Linked DNA regions of Homo sapiens: region 2 is reported to be linked to region 1. Evidence: microRNA targets listed by miRTarBase, many of them from high-throughput screens and not tested one by one. Region 1 holds a microRNA gene; the other region holds the end of a gene's coding sequence.
The links. Region 1 holds the annotated microRNA hsa-miR-3158-5p (CCUGCAGAGAGGAAGCCCUUC, at 3,059-3,079, shown strand). A microRNA usually pairs through its seed, bases 2 to 8, with sites in the 3' UTR of a target mRNA and lowers its output. Matches are read on the target gene's strand: a 7mer-m8 pairs with bases 2 to 8, a 7mer-A1 pairs with bases 2 to 7 and ends in A, and an 8mer does both.

Region 2: miRTarBase lists UBE2H as a target of hsa-miR-3158-5p. Seed matches in the 3' UTR shown: 7mer-A1 at 2,858-2,864 and 7mer-A1 at 3,857-3,863.

The regions. Positions count from the first base shown.
Region 1 is chr10:101,597,423-101,604,543 of GRCh38, reverse strand. MIR3158-2 (microRNA 3158-2) reads left to right here and starts at 3,047; the gene lies at 3,047-3,127. It overlaps DPCD (deleted in primary ciliary dyskinesia homolog (mouse)), which reads right to left. Exons shown (of 6, transcript NM_015448.3): 3 at 3,682-3,806; 4 at 3,208-3,341. MIR3158-1 (microRNA 3158-1) reads right to left here and starts at 3,127; the gene lies at 3,047-3,127. RefSeq lists a silencer at 1,499-1,658 and an enhancer at 6,978-7,121.
Region 2 is chr7:129,829,254-129,836,374 of GRCh38, reverse strand. It overlaps UBE2H (ubiquitin conjugating enzyme E2 H), which reads left to right. Exons shown (of 7, transcript NM_003344.4): 7 at 1,314-5,643. The coding sequence ends at 1,438. Among named protein-coding and RNA genes, the nearest start is that of MIR183, 58 kb to the right of the region's middle. RefSeq lists enhancers at 1-320, 1,055-1,714.

The DNA.
Region 1 (7,121 bases):
CACTAATATGTGAGGCCAAGGACATGATACACTGCAATCAATTCCTTCAAGTAAAGTCACCAACCCAGCTCTTCAGAGACAAGGCAAGTATGGGTAAAGAAACTCTGGCTTTGGTTAGTAACCACATTCCAGAATATTAGAACTGGGGCAGGTTATGGAACCTCCAGGTGAAGGAAGAGGTCAAATCAGAGAGAAATGCCATGATGTGCATTTCTGAAGTGCAGATGTCTGAGTATCAGGAGAGACAGTCACTAACTTTCAGCAAGCTGGTTCATCATGCTGACTTTATATATACATTTATATAATCATCTATAACACAAGAATAAAAGTATGGATCCTGTCCACCTCCTGACAGAATGATGATCAGAAAACAGATTTTAAATGTACTATATCCTTAAAAAGCTAAACACTGTGGAAGGGAGTAGCCATTGAGTTTTTGGCTTCTGGCCAGAGGCCACACTTCCCCACCTGCCAGAATGGCCACCCTGGTCTGGGTGTGGTGGCTCATGCTTGTAATCTCAGCACTTCAGGAGGCCAAGGCAGGAGGATCACTTGAGCCCAGGATTTTGAGAGCAGCTTGGGCAAAATGGAGAGACCCTCAACGCTATAAAAAATTGTTTAAACTTGGCCAGATTGGGTGGTATGCGCCTATAGTCCCAGCTTCTCAGGAGGATGAGGCGGGAGGATCCCTTGAGCCCAGGAGTTCAAAGCTACAGTGAGCTATGATTGCAAGAAGTGGACTCTAGCCTGGGCAATAGGGCAAGACTCCATCTCTTTTTTTTTTTTTGAGATGGAGTCTCACTCTGTCACCCAGGCTGGAGTGCAATGGCATGATCTTGGCTCACTGCAACCTCTACCTCCTGGGTTCAAGCGATTCTCCTTCCTCAGCCTCCCGAGTAGCTGGGACTACAGGCATGCACCACCACGCCTGGCTAATTTTTGTATTTTTAGAGAGACAGGGTTTCGCCATGTTGGCCAGGCTGGTCTCAAACTCCTGACCTCAGATGATCCACCTGCCTTGGCTTCCCAGAGTGCTGGGATTACAGGCGTGAGCCACCGCGCCCAGCCAAGACTCCATCTCTTAAAAAAAAAATAAATAAATAAAAATAAAAATAAAAAAGAATGTCTATGCAGGCTGTAACCCCTGATGAGAAATAAATCTCTCCCTTCCAAATTAATAATAATAATAAAGGAATACCCATTGAGTTCTATATAATTAATGGGAGTAAAGGTATAAAATACATTCTTCCAGGTAGAAGGTAAAAATGCCACTAGGTTCGGGAACGATCTGGCTAAGGGTTCAGCGGCCTCTAGGTTACCTCCCAACAGAGAGACCTGAGGAGGGCAGGGATGAGCCAGGCTGGGACACTGGACCAGAGGCTCAGTGTGGGTTCCAAAGTGGGCCCTGAAACACTCCTCTGTCCTCTATGGGAATCCAACCCTCAGCCCTGCCCCTCCAGGGGCATCACTCCCATCCCACCTGGCCTCACCCATCATTTCAAAAATGTCCAACAACCCCTGCTTGCCTTGAGAGCTAGCCTGGGCCTCCAGCCATGGAGCTCCTGGCCAACAGCGCCACCTATGGCTGGATGTGCGCAGGAGATGGGACCCAGAGGATATGCTGGCAGATGAATTTTTTGGTGAGCTAGCTAGCCTCTTTCCTCACTCCCTGGTAATCACATTTCTGTCTGATATCTGTATTCGACAGTGACCTCTGGGGGACAAAAAAGAGGCAGCAGCCAGCTTCACAAAGTGCTGGGCTGCAGATTCAAGTGCTATCAGAAGCACTTTTGTTCCCAGTTTGGACCCAAGGCCTCTTCCACCAAGGAATGCTTGCTGAAGCATGGAGTTTGTTCTCCTACAGGCAATTTCTCTGTTGTCTGAAATTGCTAAATTCCACTTTAGGCAGTGACTCCTGTTAATGATGAGAACAATAACGGGAATAAACTGCCTCTTATCTGAGGGCTTCAAAGTGCTTTATAAACACAAACCCTTATTATTATGACTTTATATTTATAGACAAGGCCCACTGCAGGGGCTGCTGGCTGCATGTACAGCAATAATCCTGAAATTAATTCATCCATCTCCACCCTTTCCCCTGTCCTCTTAACCCTGCCAAAGCAATGGGATATGGGGGTCACAAGAGGATGGCAGCACCCAGGGCTGCGATGGGGGAGTCTGGGAGCTACCCTGCTTCCCTGTGGGCCTCGTGAGCCTGAGGGAGATGGAAGGGGAGACTGGCACCACATCACCTGAGGAGATGCACAAGGAGCTGTGTCCCCATTACTGCATGTAAAGCAAGAGATGGGTGGGGGCATCCCCATGAGGCATGTTGAATGGCTTCACAGCTTGCAGACAGGTAACTTATAAAACCTCCCATCTCAATGCCCAAATCTATTTTGTGGGAGTTGTCCCTAGACTGTATTCTCTCTAGCCCAGGTCAAGATTGATTCATTTCAGGGTCATTCCCTTCAGGCCTCACACAGGGCATTGTTCTCCTGTGATCAGTCAGGGCTCCAGAAACCTAAATGAGATCAATGCATTTCCAAAATGGAAATGCACTGTGGCCACCTTCTGTCCTTTCAACCCCTGCAGTTTGCCTCCCCTCTAGGGGACCACAAAGGGAAGTTGAGTACCCCTTTTGAAGCATTATGCAAGAGACTTCCAAGCGGCCCAAGCATCTGCCCCACTGTCAGTCTGGGGAGGGATTAGGTTTACTGCTGCCCAGTCTGCTTTAAACTGCTGTCAAGTACTGCTTTAAAGGACTGTCACTCCCACTTCAGACAGGGGTGCCTTCCAAGCTATGGCTCCCTGCCAGCTCTGACAGTGATGTCACCAGGCCACCCTTACCAAGGCCTGGCTCCAGTCAGGAGACCAAGGTCATAATAACCTTTCAGCAGAACCACCTGAGACCACAAGTTAATGGTCCTGTGATTTCCCTCATCATCTCATTCATTCAACAAATATTTACTGAGCCCCTATCTATGCCAGGTACTATACTAGATACTCATTCAAGTTTCTCTTCCCCGATGGAGCTGATTACATTATTCAGGCCGGTCCTGCAGAGAGGAAGCCCTTCCAATACCTGTAAGCAGAAGGGCTTCCTCTCTGCAGGACCGGCCTGAATAATGATCCTAACGCCAGATCAAACCCCACCCTACACCCCGCTCATACACAAGCACACAGGGTGCCTTCCACGCTACTCACTTCTTGTTGGTTGTTCTGACAATGATGCAGCGCTCCTTCTGGTCCACAGAGACACTATAGACATCCTTAGGATAGGGGAGGTTTCGAATCCGCCACTGGAAACTCATCTTGGTGTCCTTGCGCATGAAGATAGGCTGCAGAAGGCAAATCCAACTCGAGGACTGTTCCTGGGGAAGGGAAGGCTCCACCCTCATCAGAGCGCTACCCCGGGGCACAACAAGACCCTCAGCTCTTCTCCACTGCTCCCCTCTGACGCTGCTATTGCTACAGCACTCCAGGCCCTGAGCCCCCGCCCTGGGACGATCAAGCCAAAATGTCTGTATTCATTCAAACAAACATTTATAGAGTGCTGTGTCCAGGTGGCACACTGGAGGCGAGGAGGTGAACAAGACATGGTCCCTGCCCTCAAGAGCCAGCAGCCCACAGCCCACCCCCACCTCAGTCCGTGCAAGACACCTGGACAGATGGACGTACATTGGCATTGCTTTCCTTGATGAGTTCAGGCCCCAGGTTCCCTGCTCCTAGGGGCGCTGGGTCTCCTACTTCAAGCTGCCACTGGCCCATGGCTCCCAGGGCACTTTTCACACGCCACTTTCTCACTGGGGAGAGAAGCAAGCATCGGGATGAGAAGCAAGCATCAGGATGAGAGTGAAGAGAGGGTCTCTGCTCTTTTCTGCTGAATCACCGGCACCACACTAGGTAACTAGCACAAGATGAAAGTGGGAGTGTTGGGCCTTTACTCTCAGCTTTGTTAATCTAAGGAGGGACCTCACAACTTCTGAAATTTCAGTAGAGCATTTCAACATTAGACAACCCTCAAAGCGCATCTCATGGGTGCTCAGGCAAAAGGAACTGGAATGAAGCTCTGAGAAGAGCCAAGTGGAGTCAAGAAACCCTCAGGTGTGGCTTCAAGCAAGGAGAAGATGTGAAGATTAGGAAAAGGGTTGTTTCTGGTAATGGAGAAAATTTGGATCCCAAAAAGGAGTTGAAGCACACTTTTTCCCTCAAAAACATGCAGAGGAAAAAATAATTAAGAGGGTGAAAGCTGTTCGGCAGGTCTGTATCATGATTCAGAAAGTCCAAATATAGAAATTCACTCTTTTCAGGTATACCTTGCTTAAAAAAAAAGAAAAAAGCAAAAACAAAAAAACGCTCCAAAGCTGCATTTAAACAAAATCGTAGGCACATGCCATATTTTAAATGCACGGTTTATAAAAGATCTAATGTGAATTTTTTGTAAAAGGGAATCCTTCTAGAATGCAAATAACCATCTCTATTTTACCTTGTTTCATAACCCAGATGCTTGCATAAGATTTTAAGGCACATATATTATGAAAATTATAAATCAAGAAACTAGTTGAATGGACTACCTGAAAACCCCTGCTGAGATTTTCATTTTCAGGAACCATGCGGTCCATCACTGCAGGGGGATCTTTTCTGAGCCATGACCTCCTATCCCCCAGTTCCTTTCCCTTCCTGCTGCATTTGGAATCCGGGGCTGCCCACTATGGTATCCTCCAGCCTGAGGAGCCCAGCTGGTGCTAAAGACCAGCAGCCTCTGTAGCTGTTTAAGGAGCTAAACAACTCAAAAAGTGCACAGTACTCAGTTACAGTTGTTTCTGTTTGTGTCTTTTTCCAGGTAGGAGTTGAGAGCTACAGTCAGGTTCTCAGCACTAGGCAGCCGGCGGTTTTACTTTAGACCTTTTGAGCAGCTGTGTCAAATCCAAACGCCCTCACCGGTATAAGTAAGGCACACAAGCTGAACACAAAAGTGTGCTGTAAAATTAGAATTTTCCCTTAAATATGTGCTTTTATAAGGTCTGCTGCATTCTGCAGTGTGATTTTATTACCTCTTAGGGCCAAAAATTCTCCCTAGAAACACATTTCCAAGTTTATAATGAAAATTAATAAGGAAGAGTAAAACTTGGAAATATGCTTTATAGGCAACTTTTTTCCCCCACAAATACTTCTCTCTTAAGTGAACGGACTGTGACCAGGAGTATATCCAAATCTATTCAGTGTTAATACCTCACTTCACTGGAAGCAGCCTTCTGGGGGCCTCTGACACAGTTGCAAACTCAGAAGTGACAAATGCCTCCGAGCAGCAGCTTATTGTGAAAAGATCCATGTACCCTACTCTATACTATAGGAAAGATCACTCTCAGATTCTCGCTCAGACTAGGTATAAAATGCTGTGTGTAGAATAAGGCAGGAAATTACTTTTTTTCTCAGGCATATTGACAATGGTATCGGGGACAACTCACACTGGACGGCAGTGTCAGAACCACATAAACACTTGGGACCATTTAGTGTAAGGGCAAACAAGCACCCTTAGACTCCAATGGTGCCACTTTATAATAGAACACAACCATCACAGATTTTAAAGGTGGAAGTTCCTTTAGAAAGCATCTACTCCAGGCCGGGCGTGGTGGCTCATGCCTGTAATCCCAGCACTTTGGGAGGCCAAGGCGGGCGGATCACCTGAGGGAGTTCGAGACCAGCCTGGCCAACATGGAGAAACCCCGTCTCTACTAAAAATAAAACATTAGCTGGGTGTGGTGGCACACGCCTGTAGTCCCAGCTACTGGGGAGGCTGAGGCAGGAGAATCGCTTGAACCTGGGAGGTGGAGGCTGTGGTGAGCTGAGATTGTGCCATTGCACTCCAGCCTGGGCAACAAGAGTGAAACTCCGTCTCAAAAAAAAAAAAAAAAAAAAAAAAAAAAAAGAAAGCATCTACCCAATGTCTGTATTTTTAAAATGAGAAATAGCATTTTTTCCCTGACTGCTCTCTTTCAACCCTTGCCACTACTCTCTAGGAAACAGACTATGAAGAATTACTGAGGCTCAAGGAGACAATCTTACAAATGCCACGGCTAAACTCCAGGTCTCCTAACTCCAAATCCAGAATTTGAATTATTAATAAAACTTTATTCTGAAAGTGTTCAATAAGCACATGTAATATTTTGAAAGGTTTCTGTTTTTTTTTAAGTAGCTCAATTTATTTTTTATATTTGGCCTTTAAAGGGTAAGCTTTGATTATCTGAAAAAGTAAATTATGAGGACTACCTCACGACCTAGGGCTGGATAAGTGAGGTGCCCCTGTAAGTCATGGGCCTTGCTAAAATGGGTGTCCTAATGCATAATAATGCACCAAGGTGGCCTGGAGGGACGACAACCACCCCAGGGTTTTCTGTGCACTTTTACTCCAAAAAATTTTGAGTTTTACACAGAAAACTTCCCAAGAAGTACTCAAAGAAGGAAGAAAGTCAGCTGCTGATTTCCTTACTTCTGACCTTAAAAACCACTCAGGGAACTTGACACCTCTGGCTGCTTCACCTTTATTTTTTGTTTAAACACCTTGAGAATTAAATTCTTTGTTAGAATGTAGAAGAAAGTCTCCTTTCCCATTCCCTCTAGAGATAAGACCCAATAAAAGATTTTGGGGAAGTCCTTCTTATTTTTCCTATGCACAAGTGCATGGGTGTGAACACACATGTACAAATGCACACTTTGTCTTGTCTTTCTTGCCCCCGTCTTTGTTTCTGAACTCAAGGACGGCTCCTGCGGCAACAGAAGACTGTTTCCATCTGCTGTCACTCTGATTTGATTATATGTTAAACCCAAACTGGTGTGAGGCAGCTTCCCGGGACGCTGTCATATCTTCCCAGCTGAGCCCCAGCCAGACCTTGGAAAAGAGACTTTCCACCCCGGTGAAGAGTCTGATGGGGAATATATAAAGGAGGTGGCGCCTGGGGGCTTTTTCCTAAATCAGCAGGAAGCAGGCTGATGTCCCAGACTGCTGAAAGGAGGCCCCATCTTTCAGGTGGGCTGGAAAGTAGAAGTCCTAAAGGCCTCTTTCCCCAAAGCTCCAAACCCTGGCCCACTTCCAATGTGGATAATTACATTCCCCTTCC
Region 2 (7,121 bases), not on the chromosome of region 1:
CTCTTCCTTTCTCTCTCTCAAAGGCCTTGTCCTAGTAAGTACTTAATATACATTTGTTTCCTTGAATACATTAAAGAGGGCTGATAGTATCAAATTCTAGTGTCAAAAAAAGGTCAATATTTATCTTCTACAAAGGAAGACGCAAAATAGTCAACCCATTAGAGGTTAAAAATAAAATTGTTAAAGTTTGAATAAATATTTCTCAATTAAGGTAAATTCCTACCTAATCATGGGCTACTTTAATCTCATCAAAATCATTAGCATAAAATTTTGTTATAATGAATTTGAAGGGCTCTAAGTCTCAAGTCTGCAAACCTTTTCTGTAAAGGACCACATTGGCCAGATGTGGCCTTTATCACACATTCTGTTTATTATTTTTTAAGACAGTTTTTAAAATATAAAAACATTCTTAGCTAGGCCCTGTGCTAGTTATTCAAATCTGGTAGGCCCATTTGGCCATTCAGCTTATCTTCCTATTGCAGTGAGTCCCCGCAACTCTATAGGAGGAAAAACAAAGCCACAAGGGTGTGTTTTTGTGTGGCTTGCATTTTGAATAGGTTTCTGTCATGTCTTTTCCTATTGTGTGGAGGCTGTTCACTTGAAAACAGTATGCACTTAGAGTTTTTAGGAACAAGTTTGTTTATTCAGCAGTTCTTAAAAGCCGTTTCAGCAGTCTTATTCAGCCTAGGGTTCCACCAAGGCTGTAGCAGCGGAAATCTACCTTCAGGTAAATTATACATGGAAAAACCACTCAGAGCCGAGTGGTGTCTCCGTATAGCAGCTTAGTCCTGAGCAGATTGAGCGATGGTTTTTGCCAGCTGCTTCAAAAACCTGACAGGCAGGATCTGTTTAGACTAAAATCGATTCCTAAAATAATAGACCTGGACTGACCGTAATTATGTAACTGCAGATCTAAAAATGATGAAGGATTTCCTTATAAATTACTATGGAATCATGACTGGTCCTATACTATCTGGGAGATGAAAGTAAAAAGAAAGCGTGGGGCTCCCATTTCCCTGGTCCCTGAAGAGTTCTTGGGGTGCTGCAGCACACACATTCCCCTGCAAGCTGAGCCTGCTGTGTTGCTCTTCCCAATACCCCTTTCCTCAGGGGGCAAAATGCAGAAACCCTGTCCCAAAGAAGTCTCCCTATGGGATTCTCCTTAGCTGTAGTGATCATGATTACTGTCATCTTTGTCCCCCCTGGTGTTCAAGGTAAGTTTGAACCTCCGCAGCCTTGCCAGCTTTTTGGGGTCGCCAAAGCACATGCCTGCCCACTCACTGCCCTTGTTGTCTTTCTCCCACCCCGTGCAGAGTACATCCAGAAATACGCCACGGAGGAGGCGCTGAAAGAACAGGAAGAGGGTACCGGGGACAGCTCATCGGAGAGCTCTATGTCTGACTTTTCCGAAGATGAGGCCCAGGATATGGAGTTGTAGTAGAAAAAGCACCTGCTTTTCAGAAAGACTATTATTTCCTAACCATGAGAAGCAGACTATAATATTCATATTTAAACAAAGCAATTTTTTTTATTACTAAACAAGGTTTTTATGAATAATAGCATTGATATATATATATTATATATCACCCTTTAGATCTTGATTTCTTGGTCATTTCTCAACCTGAGGTGCATAGCATATTCCCACATTCCATTTGGTAGCAATATGCGGTCTGAATGCATGCATTCATGAGTCCATGTGGCCAAGTCAGCCTGTGTGCTACTGAACTGTCGAAGGAAATAGCCGCTCTGATAGGTAGATGTGAGTAAAAAGAACAGGAAAAAATTGCTTCTTTTATTGGTTTCCAAAGAAACAAACCAAACCAACCAGCTCTTGGATGTGAAGATAAAATAGTGCTTTTTTGAAATGGAGAGGAAAAACTTGGGGAGGAAGAGGCCTGCTGTGGGGGCATCGGAGCCAGCCATGTAAGAATCAGAGCTGCTCCTTCCTGTGAATCCTAGGTGGCCCTATGTCTTCTGTGGAGTTACAGTATAAAGCAGGGAGCTAATTAAGAGTATTAAAACTTAAAACCATTTTTTGACTCTGATTTTAAGTACATTTTTATATGTCAGTTGCTGCCCTTCACACTACCAGGCCCTGCAGCCACAGTGTTCTGTTGGAGAAACTTGGGGAAGTGTTTTCTGAACCAGTTCTTTTTCTTGGGGTAGAGCGTGAAATCCAGACCTGTTTTTGAAAGGACAGCACAGGAGGAGAAAAGTGACTGGGACGATGCTTCCTCTCATCCAAAACACATGCAGAGTCACATCCTCATCCTAGTGTTTGGCAGTTTGAGACCGCTACCCTGAACTTAAGAGCTTTAAATATGAGGGTTGTGTTTCTGGGGGGGTTATTTTTTTGGTGTGTGTGTGTGTGTATTGTGCTTAGAAAGGTTGCAGATTTCATCTTCACCTACCAAGAGGCGGCCGCCTCCTTGGACAAGCCGCTCATGGACCATTAGACTTGAGAAGACGACCCACGTGGTGACTGCAAAGCCCTGGGTACTTGCCTTCATGTTCTGGTTTGGTTTTCCCTTTTTCTGCTGCTCTTGGCAGCAGCCTGGTCATCATCTGCTTGTGGGAGTGGGAAATGGGTATTTTAGACCCAACACAGGTTCTAAATTTAAAACAAATAATAATTGGAACAAATAAAGGTTCTTGTACCCAGAGTGATTCTACATGGGAAAAACAAACCAGCTTTTTTCAGAGAGTGACCGAATAGGAAGAAGGGATTCAGAAATATGATGTAGTAGAACATGCCCTGCAGGAAGAAAATGTTTTCTCTCCTGCGTATGTTAAGAGGAAATCAGTTTAAAATGCCTGCTAATCAAATGTCGACTCAGCTAACCATATGTCCAGGTTGCTGCAGAGTTTCTTTCAAATCTGAGTGTTGCCTGCTGAACTCGGAGGGGAGTTTGGAGAAATTTTAGACAGCAGCTCTGTGTTCTTTTTTTGCCGCAGCCAATAAGATAATAGCAGAATTAGCCAATCCTAAAACCTTCTAAAGACGATTTTTGAGCATCCCACTGGGATTATTTAATTTTTCTTTTTGACGTGTGTTTTTAGTTTAGAAGTGCTGTATTCCACAAGGTTTAAGTCAGTGAGGTTGGAAGATACCCTATCTTTTTTATTCAAAAAGCACAATCAATCTTTTGTTTGAAAATCTATATAAAGTACAACTTGCTTTTAGCATGATTATTTTCCTAAATAAAAAGACAAAGAATTTACTTACTTTATGTTAATTACGGGCATGAAGCAAAAGGTTTTCTTTAAAAAAAAAAAAAAGTGCAGTGATGTAGGGCTGTGGTTAGTTAACCGTACTGAGTTATCCATCTAGCATCTGTGGCTTGCTGGAAGGGTAGTATTAACTATTTAACATGTAATGGTGTACTTCACTCTTACCTAGCACGCTGTCTTCTCATTGCTTTGGGGGAGGGAGGGTCTCTCTGCTGGCACTGTCTAACTTGCTTACCTGCTGACTTTGCAGTTTGCTTGTGCTATGACATTTATTGTAGGTGCTATTTAGGGTAGGCTTAAAGTGCTGGGTGGTGATTTGAGTTCAAACAATAAAAAATTGTATTTTTTCAATATTGTATAAACAATAGTGTTCTAATTACCTTAAAAAAAAATAATGACCAGTTAAGAATTGCTTTTGATCTTGTCAAAAAACTGAATAGACCCCAGTTTCGGGAAGGTGTGTGAGCAGTGCCATGACTCTGCCCCTTACCTAATCCCACATCTCTCTAATGATAAGACATTGGCTCGCCTCTGACCAGAGCCCCAGCACCAGAGAGCGGAAGATGCAGAATTGTCAAATGACCTGCTGGGGGAGGTTGTAGGAGTTTAGCAGATTTGAGTGTGGCTGCAGAGAGAGAGAGTGTGTGTATGTGTGCACATGTGTGAGAGTGTGAGCGAGAGTGTGTGTGTGTCCATCTAAGTGTGTGTGATGAAGGTGGGATAAGGCTCCTCTGTTAGTGCTGGAAGCTCCTGTAATTGCCGCATGGATCCCACTGTGCCCTCTTGTTCTGTGCAAGTCTGTCCTGTCTGGGCACTAACCTTGGTCCCATGCATGTTTATGTTCTGGGTGGGGCTTTGCCTCTCCACTGGGAAACTGACTTTTGCTGGGTTGAACAGAGTCCCTTATGCTTTTTGTCCTCTCCCTGCGCCTGGGAGAGGTGGGAGTAGGAGCCCAAACACACAGGTACAGAAAGATCTGGAAGAAGGCCTGGCAGTGAATCCAAGGACTCTGGGCCCCCAACAATAGATGGTAGCGTAAGTCTGGAGCAGCGGTGTTTCACCACCAAATGCCTTTCCAGGCTGCCCTTCCAACACTCAGGAGAGCATCCAGATCCCTGGGCAGAGGCTCTACATTCTTGGCTTTAGAGGTGGTGGCAGCGGCAGCAGGTCAGAGCCACTTCTGGCGGTTTCCCTCCCCTTTTTAGTGCCCATAGTTTTTGGATCCTCCCTTGAGTTTTACCAGCACAAGCCATTCTTTGCCCCTGTTCACATAACTGAGCTCAAGCTCTTGCCAAACACCAACAAGCAAGATGGTTGCAACCTGGCAACATTGAATCCACCACCCTTGGGCTCCCTCTGGAAGCCCCAGCACCGGGGGGCTTTTGGGCACAGGGTCAGTGGTAGCCATCTTAGACACTGACATTTGGCTTTGTCGTCAATTTCATCACCCTCCTTGAGGTTACTGTGCAGTTTCAACCAGCATTTTATCCTAGTGAGGTCATTATCAGGAGTTGCCATATCATCTCTCCAGTACCTAACATTTCTCATCCACTTCAAAAGCTGTTCTGACTGCCAGCTGGCTGATCTAAGCTCCTGAGGAATGTCTCCTCTCAAAGGAATTTTTCCCTCCAAAGGCCCCCTGAAGTCCTAGTTGGCATTGGCCTGGCACATGCTTTATGTTAGGCCTCCCGTTGGGATGGCTGAGAATCATGAAAGACAGATCCTCCGCTAGCCTCTGTGGGTCAAGTTTCTGGACACCAAGTCTCTGGGAACTAGTGTTTGATTTTAAATGGCATGTGGCCCTTCCTTGTTTCAGTGACTTAGAAAAGTAAAAGCCATTTAAAAAAGTTAGCAAGATTTTTTATCGACTTCCCAACTGGGCTTCCAGCCTTGTTGAATGAAATCATCTATCTCTGATTGGGCGCAACGAACTGCATTTCTTTGGACTTCTGAATCCATGTTTGTGCTTTCTCTGGCCCGTGAACACCTCGGCGATTCTGTTAGGGATGGGATGAGTGGGAGGAAGCCCTTTGAGAAGGGGGAGCCGGCCCTGTCATGCGCAGGTTTTCCACTCATCTGAGGAAGAGCCAGGGCTCTGAATTTAGCCTAACACTCATCTTGGCTGTGGGCTTGGGAAGAAATGGCCATTATTTACAGATTGTATTTGGTACATATTGTGTGATACTTGAAAAGATAAAAGGGACTGCCAGCCCCTAACTGAAATCTGAAGCTTTTTATCGCTTATTTTTCCTCGCCCTGTCTCCTCCCTTCCACCTTTCTCCTTGCATTGTGATGATCTAGTAGGCACGTCTGTCAACAGGACACATGCCTCCTCTGACTATAACCTCTTAATAGTTGTGTATAATGAAAACTGTAAACTTTTTTAAATAAACGTGTATATACCTTGGCAAATGGCTGGACCTTGATCAATAAGATAATAGCCCTCATGATTACTCTCAGCTGGTTTTCTAAAATACCCTCTCTGTTCTGGCTCCTTTGAGCAGCAGACGCTGGCTTCTTTTGGCTGAGCAGCTCTTAGAATGCAGATGACTAAATTAGTTTGGGAAGGGAGTGGCACCCTTAGGCAGTAATAACCAAGAGGCTCTGCCCAGAGGCCTGTCCTTGAACCTGGAACTCAGATGCACAACTGCTGGCTATGAACGGGGCTGTGAGGCTCCTCCACTAGAGCCGTGGAAAGCCCGAAGGTCCCTATCTACCCCCATGCCTAAACCTTCTAAGCCCTGTCAACTCACGCTGAGTGAGGATACTCCGTGGCCTGGAGTTCAAGGACAGTGCAGCTTCCTGCTGGGACTGATCTGCCTAAACAGGTGGTCCTCTGCCAAGTGCTAAGCCTCCTGGGAGATGAGGAACGGTGGGTTTTGCATGGTAAAATGCTAATCGCTGGATTAGACCGTTTCGATTCCTTTCTAAAGCGTTTGCCTTTAGTTACCACCAGATGGCGATGCCGCTCAGTCTAATGGAGACGGTTTTGTTAGCAGGACCTTAAGACAAAGGAAATAGTGTTGCTTTGTTCGCGTGTTCTCATTCCAGCTCTTTTCCACTGTTTTCTCCTTATTCCCCTAAACTCCTTTTTCTCCTTCCCTACATGCTGATGCATTCGCGCCGGTTGACCCGGCTTCATACCTACCTGCCAGATTGAATGAGGTCGGGCTACTGAGGAATGGTGTGCCAGTGCCTGCTCCCTCCTCACTGGCAGGGAACCCCCCAGCTACCCTGGATGCCTCCAGAGCCCAGAAGCAAAACATTCAATACATTCTTTGTGGGTGGCGTTCATGGACCCTTTAGCCAAAGGACTGAACCACAGAGCCATGAGTTCGAGTCCCAGCCCTTCCTTTAGCTGTGCAACTTCAGGCTCCTCACTGGGCTTTCATGGACCTTGGGTACTGAGCTGTAAACTGACATCCCTAGACTAGTAGGTTCTGACTCTGCCACCTTGTGACTCAACTCCACCCAGGCTGCGAAACAGTGCCCCGTCATAGGATAGAGTAACTGAGAGAGGATGCTGTATATTAACCACGAAACACCAGCGTTTCAACACAGGTTTAGAGTTTTTAGACTCAGAGCATTGGGGGTGTAGAGCACTTTCCAGCCTGAAGGGGACTTAAGAGGTACATGGGTCACGTGAGCAGTCATTCCATTGATCTCAATAAGGCAGCTGCTTTTAAACCCCTCCCAGGAGAAGTCTCAGTGCAGTCGCCGGCACTTGGGTCCCCCGACCTCCCCCCTCCACCAACCCCAGTAATCTCACCCAGCACCACTCAACCTCTCAGCCTCAGTCTAGCTGTTTCCCAAGTGGCAGGTGGCTTGTCACTACCTGCCTGAGTCATTGTTCCTTTCCTGGGAAGGGGACCGGGGTTTCTGAGGCACGT